Linked DNA regions of Homo sapiens: all the other regions are reported to be linked to region 2. Evidence: microRNA targets listed by miRTarBase, many of them from high-throughput screens and not tested one by one. Region 2 holds a microRNA gene; each other region holds the end of a gene's coding sequence.
What was found. The annotated mature microRNA hsa-miR-4255 reads CAGUGUUCAGAGAUGGA and lies in region 2 at 2,104-2,120, opposite strand. An mRNA with a match to its seed (bases 2 to 7 or 8) in the 3' UTR can be bound and repressed. Matches are read on the target gene's strand: a 7mer-m8 pairs with bases 2 to 8, a 7mer-A1 pairs with bases 2 to 7 and ends in A, and an 8mer does both.

Region 1 (4,227 bases), not on the chromosome of region 2:
CAGCCTGGGCAACAAAGCGAGACTCCGTCTCAAAAAACAAAACAACAACAAAAAACGAAACACCGAAATGGGCTTTGAAGAATGGAAGGGATGCAGATAAAAGAGAGGAGGGCGCAGAGCGGTTTGGTCGTTCGTTGGACCAGTGTCGGTTCTTCGCTCGCGACTGCGGCTCTTCCTCGGGCAGCGGAAGCAGCGCGGAGGTCGGAGAAGTGGCCTAAAACTTCGGCGTTGGGTGAAAGAAAATGGCCCGAACCAAGCAGACTGCTCGTAAATCCACCGGTGGGAAAGCCCCCCGCAAACAGCTGGCCACGAAAGCTGCCAGGAAAAGCACCCCCTCTACCTGCGGGGTGAAGCCTCATCGCTACAGGCCTGGGACCGTGGCGCTTCGAGAGATTCGTCGTTATCAGAAGTCGACCGAGCTGCTCATCCGGAAGCTGCCCTTCCAGAGGTTGGTGAGGGAGATCGCGCAGGATTTCAACACTGACCTGAGGTTTCAGAGCGCAGCCGTCGGTGCGCTGCAGGAGGCTAGCGAAGCGTACCTGGTGGGTCTGTTGGAAGATACTAACCTGTGTGCCATCCACGCTAAGAGAGTCACCATCATGCCCAAAGACATCCAGTTGGCTCGCCGGATACGGGGAGAGAGAGCTTAAGTGAAGGCAGTTTTTATGGCATTTTGTAGTAAATTCTGTAAAATACTTTGGTTTAATTGGTGACTTTTTTTGTAAGAAATTGTTTATATGTTGCATTTGTACTTAAGTCATTCCATCTTTCACTCAGGATGAATGCGAAAAGTGACTGTTTACAGACCTCAGTGATGTCAGCACTGTTGCTCAGGAGTGACAAGTTGTTAATATGCAAAACGGATGCGTGATATTTCTTGCTTCTCATGATGCATGTTTCTGTATGTTAATGACTTGTTGGGTAGCTATTAAGGTACTAGAATTGATAAATGTGTACAACAGGGTCCTTTTGCAATAAAACTGGTTATGACTTGATCCAAGTGTTTAACAATTGGGGCTGTTAAGTCTGACCATACATCACTGTGATAGAATGTAGGCTTTTTCAAGGGTGAAGATACAAACCTTAACCACAGTGTAACTTATAGTTTCCTTTAAAAAAAAAAAATTAAACCTGGCAGCTATAGAATACAATATGTGCATTTATAATAGCTATTTTATATATTGTAGTGTCAACATTTTCAAATTAAATGTTTTACATTCACAAGTGGTGGGGAGTCTTGTCATTAAGGTGTGTGTAATTTAGAGTCCAGTTGGTTTTCTTCTGACTGCACTTGTTCTCATAGTAGTAAAATGCTATGTGCATTTATACCTTGCATAAATCCTCATTCTACCACATGTTAACTAACCCTCTAGCTGATAATGGAAACACTAACTGGGGGATTTTATTTATAAGGGCTCTAGAAAAAAATATGAGTTATTCACACCAGCATCATCTGTTAACTAATATTCTGAACTAGTGCAGCTTTTCATTGTGTTGTGTGGTTGGTCTCATAACTAGGTTGAGTTTTCTCCTCTGCTAAGAGGAAACAGTACTGAAGTTCTTTTTCTTGTGGCATTTGTATTATAAAAACTTGGTGTAGGGGAGGAGCACAAAGCTCTAGCCCACTGAACCTCTGCCGGTTAAGATGGTGTTAGGTTAGGTTACATCTGGTTACTGTCCTGGGAAAATCATTTTTATAGAGATGGCCTTCCAAGTGGTTTTAAAATTTATCTTATTGAAGTTTTTAGGTCAATTATGTATGTTGACTAAATTTACAAATAAACTTGTTTATCCAAAAAAAAAAAAAGAGAGGAAAAGAATCAGAAATATTGGAGAGTAGAAATGCAACAGAAGAGAACTATAAAGTTTATGTTGGGGGAAAACAATTAGTTTGTCTCAAGTGTAGTATTTACGCAAAGGAGAAAACTTTAGGGATGTAGGGCCCACATTGTAAAGAGCTTGGAATTAGGATTTAAGGAATTTTATACTCTATCCTGCAAAATTCACAGACAAATTTGAGAACTGACTAGCATTTTAACTTGCAAAAAAAGACAAGTTAGTACAGAACTAGCACATCTAATTTTTAAAAAAGTATTTGAACTATAACATGGTGAAATCCCGTCTCTATTAAAAATACAAAAATTAGCTGGATGTGGTGGTGGGCGCCTGTAATCCCAGCTACTGTCAAGGCTGAGGCAGGAGAATTGCCTGAACCCAGGAAGTGGAGGTTGCAGTGAGCCGAAATCGCACCATTGCACTCCAGCCTGGGTGTCAAGAGCAAGACTGTCTAAAAAAAAAAAAAATCACAAAGTCAGGAGATAGCTCAGATTGTTATATATTAGTCAACAATTCTGATTGGATAACTTTGGGGTCAGTCTTGATAAAAAGAAAAACAGTATGTTTCTGTCTTTTGCATAAAAAATAACTTCACGGCTTATCTTGGAATTCAAAGCTTTTGAAATATTTCTGGTTTTCGTGGCTTATCTTAGAGTGCAAAGCTTTTAGGAATGTCAGCCTTTTCCAGACTATGGTACAGGATGGGCTTGATTAGTCGATATAGTGGGCATGATATTCGTTTTACAGACTAGAGTTCACACTAAATGGCCATAGGCTCCCATAGGGCCACCAGGTAGAGTTGTGCAGATTGTATAGGCTGTGCACTGCACAACTTTTTATGTTATGTGCACAGTGCCCTCTGGAGTTATAAAATGCAAAGTCGGCTGGACGTGGTGGCTCTCGCCTGCAATCCCAGCACTTTGGGAGGCCGAGGCAGGCAGATCACAAGGTCAGGAGTTCGAGACCAGCCTGGCCAACATGGTGAAACCCCATCTCTACTAAAATACAAAAATTAGCTGGGCGTGGTGGCATGCGCCTGTCATCCCAGCTACTCAGGAGGCTGAGGCAGGAGAATCGTTTGAACCCAGGAGGTGGAGGTTGCAGTGAGCCGAGATCGTGCCATTGCACTCCAGCCTGGGAGACAGAGCAAGACTCTGTCTCAGAAAAAAAAAAAAAAAAAAAAGCAAAGTCTACTCAGCCATACCTGGAAGCCTAGACGCCAGGCAGGTAACACAAATCAGTGAAACCTGGGGCCCTTTGAAAGGATTCCAGCAAATTTAAAAATAATGGTCAGAGCACTGTGGAGTTGTAGAAAAACAAATTTGCAGACTATGTTCAGCCTTGGAGCTCAAGTTTGGGACCTCTGCCATATAAGGTAGAGGCAGTCAATATTTTTGTCAAGGTAATGATGCAAAGAGATATGTAAAATAGATTACCATAGAGAAAAGAGGCTACAAAGAAATAAAAAAGTCAGAAAAGTACTTCAATAATCTGGGCTGAGGAAACAGGGGCCTGGCCGGGCCAGAACTATGTGGATAGACATAGAAAGAAAAGAATTAGTAGAATTTAGTGATCAGATTCAGGTTTGATTCTGAACCAAATCAATTCAGACTTGATTTCTCATAAGACAAAAAAAAAAAAAAAAGAAAGGGAGACCAGAGTAATGCAAGGTTTTGAACTTGGGTCCTTAGGAAAATACCTGGAAGAAAAATATTTACCTTGGAAATAATTTCAGATTAAAAAATAATCTTTTGACCGGGTGTGGTGGCTCACGCCTGTAATCCCGGCACTTTGGGAGGCCGAGGCAGGCAGATCATGAGGTCAGGAGATGGAGACCATCCTGGCTAACATGGTGAAACCCCGTCTCTACCAAAAACACAAAAAATCAGCTGGGCGTGGTGGCGGATGCCTGTAGTCCCAGCTACTCGGGAGGCCAAGGCAGTAGAATGGTGTGAACTCATGAGGCGGAGCTTGTAGTGAGCCAAGATCGCACCACTGCACTCCAGCCTGGTCAACAGAGTGAGACTCAGTCTCAAAAAAAAAAAAAAAAAAAAAAAACTTTTAGGATAGGATAGTAAAAATCATGTTTTGAAAGCTTATGTAATGCTGGCCGGGCACGGTGGCTCACGCATGTTGGGAGGCTGAGGCAGGCGGATCACTTGAGGTCAGGAGTTCGAGACCAACCTGGCCAACATGGCGAAACCTTATCTCTACTAAAAATACAAAAATTAGCCAGGCTTGGTAGTGGGCGCCTGTAATCCTAGCTACTGGGGAGGCTGAGGCAGGAGAATCACTTGAACCTGGGAGGCAGAGGCTGCAGTGAGCAGAGATCGAGCCACTACACTCCAGCCTGGGCAATAAAGTGAGACACCATCTTAAAAAAAAAGAAAA
Region 2 (4,242 bases):
TTCTATTTACAATAGCATAAATAGTATAAAATTATCAGGAATACATTTAACAGGAGTGCAAGACTTGTATAACCAACAATACAGTTGAAAAATATTGTTGAAAAAGTTAAAGAAGACCTAGATAAATGGAAAGACATTTCATATTCATGGTCAGAAGCTTTGTTAAGCTGGAAATACTCCCCAGATTGATCCACAGATTAAATGCAATCCCTGTTAGAATACAAGCTGACTTCTTTGTAGAAATTCACAAGCTAATTCTAAAGTTCATATGAAATGTAAAGGGACCCAGAATGACCAAAATAATCTTGAAAGGCAATAACAAAGTATGAGTACTCTTACTGCTTGATATCAAAACTTACTACAAAAAAAAAAAAAAAAACCCGGTAATCAAGACAGTACAGGGCTGGCATAAGGATAGACATGTATATCAATAGAATGGAATTGAGTTGATAGATTAAACCCATACATCTATGGCCAACTGATTATTAACAAGGTTGCCAAGACAATTCAATGAAGGAAAGAATAGTCTTCAACAAATGATGCTGGACACTGTATAGCCACTTGCCAAAAAGAAAGAAGTAGAACCCTACCTCACATCATATACAAAAATCAGCTAAAAATGGATCAAAGATCTAAACATAGGAGCTAAAACTATAACACTTGTAGAAGAAAATGCAGGAGAAAATCTTTATAACCTTGGATTGGACAATGGATTCTTAGATTTGGCGCTAAAAGCACAAGTGACAAAACAAACAAAAAATAGACAAACTGGACTTCATCAAAATTAAAACTTTCATGCTTCAAACGACACCATCAAGAAAGTGAAAAGACAAATCCAAAAATGGGAGAAAATATATGCAAATTATATATCTGATAAGGGTATTGTTTTCAGGATATATAAAGAACTCTTACAACTCAATAATAAAAAGGAAAGTAACTCAGTTTTTAAAATGGGCAAATAATTTGAACAGAAATTTCTCCAAAGAAGATATACAATTGTCCAATAACCACATGAAAAGATGCTTAATATAATCAGTCATAAGGGAAATGCAAATTAAAACCACTACGAGATACCACTTTACATGCATTGGAATAGCTAAAATAAAAAAGACACATAATAACAAAGATTGACAAGTACATGCAGAAATTGTAACCCTGATACATTGCTAATCAAATTGTAAAATGGTACAGCCACTTTTGAACAATTTGGTAGTTCCTCAAAAAGTTAAACATAGAGTTAACTCTATAATATAATAGAACATTTCCACTCCTAGATATATATCCAAGAGAAATGAAGACATATCTTCACCCAAATGCTTGTACATAAGTGTTCATGGCAGCATTATTCATGACAGTCAAAAAGTGGAAACAACACAAATGACCATCAACTGATTAATGGATAAATAAAATGTGGTATATCAATACAATGGAATATTACACAACCATAAAAAGGAGTGAAGTACACACTACAACATGGATGAACCTTGAAAACATTATGCTAAGGGAAAGAAGCCAGTCACAAAAGATCACACATTGTATGACTGCATGTATATGAAATGTCATGCATAGGCAAATCCACTGAGAAAGAAAGTGGGTTAGTGGTTGCCAGGGACTGTCAAGCAAGGGGGAATGAGGAATGACTGCTAATTAGTATGGGATTTCTTTTGGAAGTGATGATGAAATGTTCTAAAATTAGATAGGTTACACAACTCTGTGGCATACTGAAGAATCACTGAATGTTACACTTTAAAAGGGTACATTTTATGGTGTGCAGACTACAGCTCAATAAAAATGTTATTTGAAAAGACTTCATGGCTTCCCCATTGCTATCAGGATGAATTTCCACCTCCTGCAGGATGAGACTCCTGCTGATCCCTCCAGGCTCATCTTTTGTTCTCCCAACACCCAAGCATTCAGTGCTCCAGCCTCATGACAGATCCCTCAACATGCTCCCAAGTCCTTATCTCTGCACCTTGAAGCTTGCTGTATATACAATGTAGAGGGTATGACCAAGGGCTTGGGAGTCACATCCTAGCATTGCAGACTACTGCTTCCAGCATGATGCTGCCTCTTTGCCCTAAAAATGGCCAGACCAATACTGACTCCATCTCTGAACACTGAAGGATGCTCTATAAAGTTCAATGACCTCTTACATTAGATGGCTCCATGGCCCACCTTTCCCACAGGCTTTCCTGGAGATTCCAGTTTTTCTAGTTACTGGGAACTTAATCTAGTAGACACAGAAACTGCTCTCCTAGTTGGTGGTAGGCTCTCAAGTTGAAAAGCCAGGTGAGATCAGGGGCAGGGGCACTAGACTAAACCAGATATTGGGTGAGCGTATGGAAGAAGCTGACCAGGAGAAAGGGAGAACATGCAAGAATGTCAGTGAGAGAGAGAGAAAAGAGTCTACACAGCCCTGGGGGATGAACAGAGAAAGTCCGGGTTCAGCTGCACTTCTGAGCTTTTGTTCTGTGAGATCTTTTTCATAATGTGCCCTCTTTATGTGAGCTAACTTGATTGGTTTTCTGTTTCTTGCAAATCAAGCATGTCACCCTCCTTTAATGCCGAAAATGTCCCTTTCTGCCCTTTAAGACCCCAATAGGTCTCTTCCATCCAGGTGTGTATTTAGCCTTTCCTGCCTGCACCAATGACAGGTTCTGTGGCTTGGTCCCAGCATGCAGCAATGCACATCCTGTTATTATTCATTACACTTTCTCTTTGAGCTTATAAGATCTGGGGTTGGACAGACAATTTTTAAGCTTCAGCTTTTCTGCTGGAGAGCTCTCCTAGATGACAGTCTGAACCTTTAAATCCTGTATGTCTTGCAATGAATGTCTCATCTTTCTCTTACAAATTTCTCTAAACTAGCCGCCTGCCATCATGCTGTACTTTGAGGTTGTCACCACTGGCCTGACAATACCCAGGCAAGAAGAGTTAGCCTGACTCTGTCCTCTCACTCAGTTCCTAGTAGCTCATCCACAGGTCTCTCCTGCCTGGCTGCCTCTTCACTGGCCTCCCTGCCTCCAGCCTCTCTCTTCTTCCTGTTGCTCTGCATACATTCGCTCTATGATGCTCCCCAAAATACTGCCATGACATCAGCTAAGACAACTAACACGTGTCACATATCTACTGTGGATTTGTATACTGTGCCAAGAGCTTTAAATTTTAATTTATTCTACAATTAATCTCAAGAGGGAGCTTTTAGTTTCTCCATTTTATAAATGATAAATTTGAAGCACAAAGAGGTTCAGCAACTTTCCACTCTATGCCTAACTCCACACAACGAATCGTGATTTAAACTCAGGTCTGTCTGACTCTTGCTCTTTCAAGTAAACTGGACTGGGTCAGGTTATTCCCCCATTCAGAGACCTTCCACATGACTATTTCCCAGAGACAAAGTCCAAAGTCTTTTTTTTTTTTTTTTGACATTCAAGGCCCTCCATGAGCTGGCCCCAACCTGGACCTCCAAGTGTATTAGTCTGTTCTCACACTGCTAATAAAGACATACACAAGACCGGGTAATTGACAAAGGAGAGAGGTTTAATTGACTCACAGTTCAGCATGGCTGGGGAGGCCTCAGGAAATTTACAATCAGGGCAGAAGGTGAAAGGGAAGCAAGGCACCTTCTTCACAAGATGGCAGGAAGGAGAAGTGCAAGCAGGGGAAATGCCATACACTTATAAAACCATCAGATCTCTTGAGACTCACTTATTATCAAAAGACTAGCATGGGGGAAATCACCCTCATGATTCAATTACCTCCACCTGGTCCCTCCCTTGATATGTGGGGATTATGGGGGTTGCAATTCAAGATGAGATTTGGGTGGGGACACAGAGCCAAGCCATATCACCAAGTAAACTGACCAACTGAAGGTTCTTATAGTCATCTTTTTATTTGTTCCCTGAATTTTCATTTGGATTGTTCACCTCACATGGAAAAGTCCTTCTTCTTCTAGGAGGAACATGTAATCCTCTGATGTATTGTCTGTTGTGGGCTTTCCCTGAAAACACAGAGAATATCCTCCCTTTTGCTCTGCAATAGAAGGGTTTTAGCAAATTCAGTATGTGCTGCTTGGGTAGGAGGAGCAGAAAATAAGAAAAGGAGAGAAAACAGGACATATGAGCCCCAAAATTATTATTGAGAATTATTAAGGTGTCTCTATAATTGATGATCTAAACCAAAACACGTTTGAGAATAAAAAGGGTGCTATTCATCATTATGTGGAACAACAGACAAAACCTG
Region 3 (4,242 bases), not on the chromosome of region 2:
GAAAAAGGAAAAAGAAAACTTACTAAAAACAATTGTTCCTTCTCTTTAAAATTACCTGTTTAACAAGTACATTTTAACAATGTACTAAATTTTCAAATGTCAAAAGAAAACACCAAAAAACAAGCATTGTTGCCTTAAACACTTTTCTGGAACAAGGCAGAATATAAATAAATAAATAAATAACACGAGTGATGCAAAGAGTCACAGAATGTGGGTGATATTGATGGGTTTATCTAAAACCCCTCACCCGGGACTCCAAAGCTGAATTCTCAGAGTTACCAACGTTGTCCCCCACCCCACCACAGCCCAGCCCAGCCCATCTGTTGACAGCAGCCAAGGCCCAGGGCCCAGGACTGTTCCACAGCCACTGGCAGTGGTGACAGTCAGATGCTTCTGGGATGCAACCAGGGGCAACCTTCAGGCTCCTTCCCCCAGCCCATCGAGCCCCTCTCCTAGGGAGGACTCCGGGCCAGCCAGGCAGCAGCCTCACTGAGGACCACGTTTCCCTGTCCCATGGGACTTGGGCGCCCCAGGGCTTAGAAAGGTGATTTCCTAAAGTGCTTAGGCGGAAAGTGCTACTCTTCCTATTCTGTAACCTGTCCTTGCCAACAGAAAAAAAAGGGAGCTTTAGTGAAGGAAGGCAATGCCACTAAAACCCAGGAGGAATGACCTTAGCTACCCACCCTGTTTTCAGATTCATATTTGGCAGCTATGAAACAAGATACCAAACCTCCAAATTGTTTGGATTCTGAAAAAATTGGCAAAGGCTGGCTTGAACAGAGAGGAAGTTGAACATGTCCTCTGCAAATGAAAAGCTGAGACCCTAGACACCTGCAGGCCAGCCAGGCTGGGCCACAGGCCAGGGAAGGGCCATGAGAGGCCCCCTCCTCCAGCTCATTCTCTCCCCAGATACATCATTCCCTGGCCAGGTCTGGGTGAGTCTTCTCTGCAACGATCCATTCAGTCCACTCCTCCTAGAGAGACCAGGGGCAGTGACCTGGTCCCTCCAAAACAGGCCCTGGGCTGTGCAAAGGAGCATGACGCCCATGCTGCCACATCTGGGTCCTTGCCTCTGTGCAGCCTGAAGGTCACACCACCACACTCACGCATGGGACTCCCACGAGGCAGCATTCCCAGGTGCTGCTTCCCAAAAGGTTCAATAACTGAGCCACCTCCTGCACCGGGCAGGGCTGGGGAGGCCTCGTCCTTAACAGGCCCCTGCAGAAAGTACTCAGTAGAGCAGACGCAGAGCGTATCATGTGTCTACAACATGGCTCACCTCGAAAAAAGCCACCCTCCTCTGAGCCCAAAGGGTGGCAGGAAGAAGAGCCTCGAGGTGGGAGGAGCTAAACAGTAAGCCAGTAAAGAGCCAGAGTGCAGGGAGCTAACCAGCCTCCCTGAAAGCCCCTATCAGCCCTACCAGGGTGATGAGCCACTGCCTACGACCTCCAGTGACAAGGCCCAGTCCACGGTGGTGGCTCCAACTTCCGTATCATCATTCCTTAACTCCCTATAGCTCCTGCCCCAGCCACAGCCCAATTTTTGTCCTAGTCCCACTTTGGTACCACAAAGAACACGCCCACCCCCTCTCCCGGGCTGAAGCCCCTGCAGCACCCAGCCCCGGCTGTCCTGGCCCTCCCCAGCCGCTCACCACCTGCGGTTCCTCTCCTATCTTGGGAAGACCCTCCTGGCTTCAGCAGGACCCAATCCCAAGCTCCCCTCGGGAACAGCACACAGCCCACATTTACACAACCATCACAGCTTCTAACAGTGTCACCTCAGCTGAGGAAACACCTCCCGGATTGCATTTTCCCCTCTGAATCACCCGAGGACTGTTCTTCCCTTCGGAACTGCATCTGCACATACACGGGTCAGCTGGGGTGACCCACACAGAGCCCATTTGTGACACAAGGGGTTGGGGGTATAGAATTCTATCCTCTGGCTGTAGAACGCAATAATGGCCAGACACTGCCTGCCTGCTAAGACACACAGTGATGCTACTAAGTAAATAAAACGGTATCATTGTTCAAGTTTTACAAATTGGATTTCTCTTATTACAGAAAATCAAACACAGATTTGAAATCTGCGCCTTCCTAAATATATCTGAAGTCTAGAATCACCATGGATCCACACAATGGTCCTCATGGGCTTCAAATGACGAAATGTGATTCACTGGAAACAGCAGCAACCTGGGAGGGCTCTGAGGCTGCAGCCACCAGCCCACCTGCCGGTGACCCTCACACCTGGCTGTGCAGCCCTGGGTAAGGGGAAGCCCAACTCATGCAGCCAAAGCTATCAGCAATGATAACCCAGGCCATCTCTCTCCCGGGAAAGACTTCTGACCTCACTGCTATCCCCTGCATAGATTCTAGAAGCAGCGACCAAGACAAAAGAGAGCAATCAACCAACCGCCAGATGTTCTGTCCACTGGACAGCATGCGCCTGGAGGCTCATAACCACCCAGAGGACTCGCTGCATTTTTCACTTTCTGGTACGTGTGGGGGACAGAAGACAGCGCCTCGGGCATTTTCCTCGCCTATTAGAACTGGCAGTGAATGCTGTTGGAACGGTCCTTGGTCCCAAGGAAGGCAGTCATTTCCTGGGGAGTTTGGTGTGGGCCTCCTAAAATCAATCACTGGAAGCTCCCTAAGGTGAAGTGGCAGAAAAATCGTGACACCTGATGAGAGGCACAGTAGGTGTTGGAACAGGTGCCGTGCAGCCAGGAAACCACCCTTGAGTGAAGACACTCACTATGAGACCTCCATCGCAAAGAGAGAATACTGAAGGGGCAAGGAAGGGGCGTGTATGACAAGCGCATGTGTTACCCCAGGAGCAGGAAAAACCAACCAGCAAGTTCATGAACTGCATTTCTGTCCTCTATTTTGCTTACGAAACTCCCTTTTCATTGAGATACTAGAAGGCTTTAATCGAACCATCAAATTGAGAAGTAGAAAAATAAAGAGAAGCACAGTTCCAGAAGTGCTGGGAGTCTTCCCTACAGGGAAATTAGTAGGCCTCCAACCTCAGCCCCTACATGTACATACCCCATGGCCCGTTACATTAATATGCAACTGAAAATCCAGAACAGAGAACTTGGGAAAAACAATAATAACTTTAGTATAAGCCTCTCAGCTGACAATGACCCAAGGACTGTTCAGCGGCCCAGGCACCTGAGGAGCAATGACAGTCTACGAGGACATCTTCTGCAGCAACAGCCATCAGGAGACCAGCAGCAGCACAGCACTCAGGGCTCGGTGTCCACCTCCCTGCAGATCACTTTCTCCCTCACTGGAATCAACCGCAGCACTTGGAGTCTACTCATGGAGTAGAAACTTCTTTATGGGGTCTGGCAGAGGCAGCGAAGGAATCAGATGAAGCCGGTGTTTGCCAAGAGCTCTTCTCACAGCCACACGGCACAGACACAGCAAGGTTCTGGGAACACCTGAAGGCCGTGGGAAGAAAGAGAGGGATAGAGGAAGGTTCATTCTATTCCAGTTATAGAGAGAAAAGGCAGCTGGGACTGCCAGCCAGAAGTGCACCAATGCTCACTACCAACTTCAAAACGCTCAGTGAAACACAAAGTGATGGCTTTTCCTGATGGATGAGGAGAGCAGGCCCCAGGGAGGAAGGTCTTCTTATCTGCTCCTTCTGTCGCAGGAAAGAGCGAAACCTTTCCAGCCTCGTTAACCCAGGGCATCTGCTCCCTGGATCACAACTCGACCATGTTTAATGCACTAGAGAAAGAAATCAGAGTGGACCACTGAAGGCCCCAGCAGGTGCGGGCCGCGGACGCCCAGCCTCTGTCAGCCCCTTCCCTTAGTCAATCCCTGAAGCTCCACCAGTGCCTGGGGAACACAGGCTGAGCACTGCTTGAGGGGCACAGGCTGACGACTTTGCCCCCAATGAAAAGAGCGCAGCCAAGTTCTGTCTCGATTAGCGAGGAAGCTGAGGAGTGGAACAGTCCTGAACGCAAGCTGCTGCTTCTATCAGTACAGCTCCCAGCTGACCATTCATTAACTATTTGTGGGAAGGCTACACAGGAGCATGCTTTAATGAACTGGTTTAGGGAAATCCAGTAACAAAAACACAATGAATTTAAAGTCCTTTGAGAGGCAGGGAGAAGGAAGAGGTTATCAACTTGGATGTCTCAAGACCCAGACTGGGAGCGGTGGGAGGGGGTGACATGTGGGCAGGAGGTTAAAGACAACACATGAGGTCAATGTCTGAATCCCAGAGAGCCTC

Region 1: miRTarBase lists H3-5 as a target of hsa-miR-4255. The part of its 3' UTR that is shown has no 7-base or 8-base seed match.
Region 3: the mRNA of ASB1 is a reported target of hsa-miR-4255. The part of its 3' UTR that is shown has no 7-base or 8-base seed match.

Annotation. Positions count from the first base shown.
Region 1 is chr12:31,788,182-31,792,408 of GRCh38, reverse strand. It overlaps H3-5 (H3.5 histone), which reads left to right and starts at 111. Exons shown (of 1, transcript NM_001013699.3): 1 at 111-1,224. The coding sequence starts at 243. The coding sequence ends at 650.
Region 2 is chr1:37,159,451-37,163,692 of GRCh38, reverse strand. It overlaps MIR4255 (microRNA 4255), which reads right to left and starts at 2,130; the gene lies at 2,059-2,130.
Region 3 is chr2:238,445,584-238,449,825 of GRCh38, reverse strand. It overlaps ASB1 (ankyrin repeat and SOCS box containing 1), which reads right to left. Exons shown (of 5, transcript NM_001040445.3): 5 at 1-3,442. The coding sequence ends at 3,315. Among named protein-coding and RNA genes, the nearest start is that of ASB1, 21 kb to the right of the region's middle.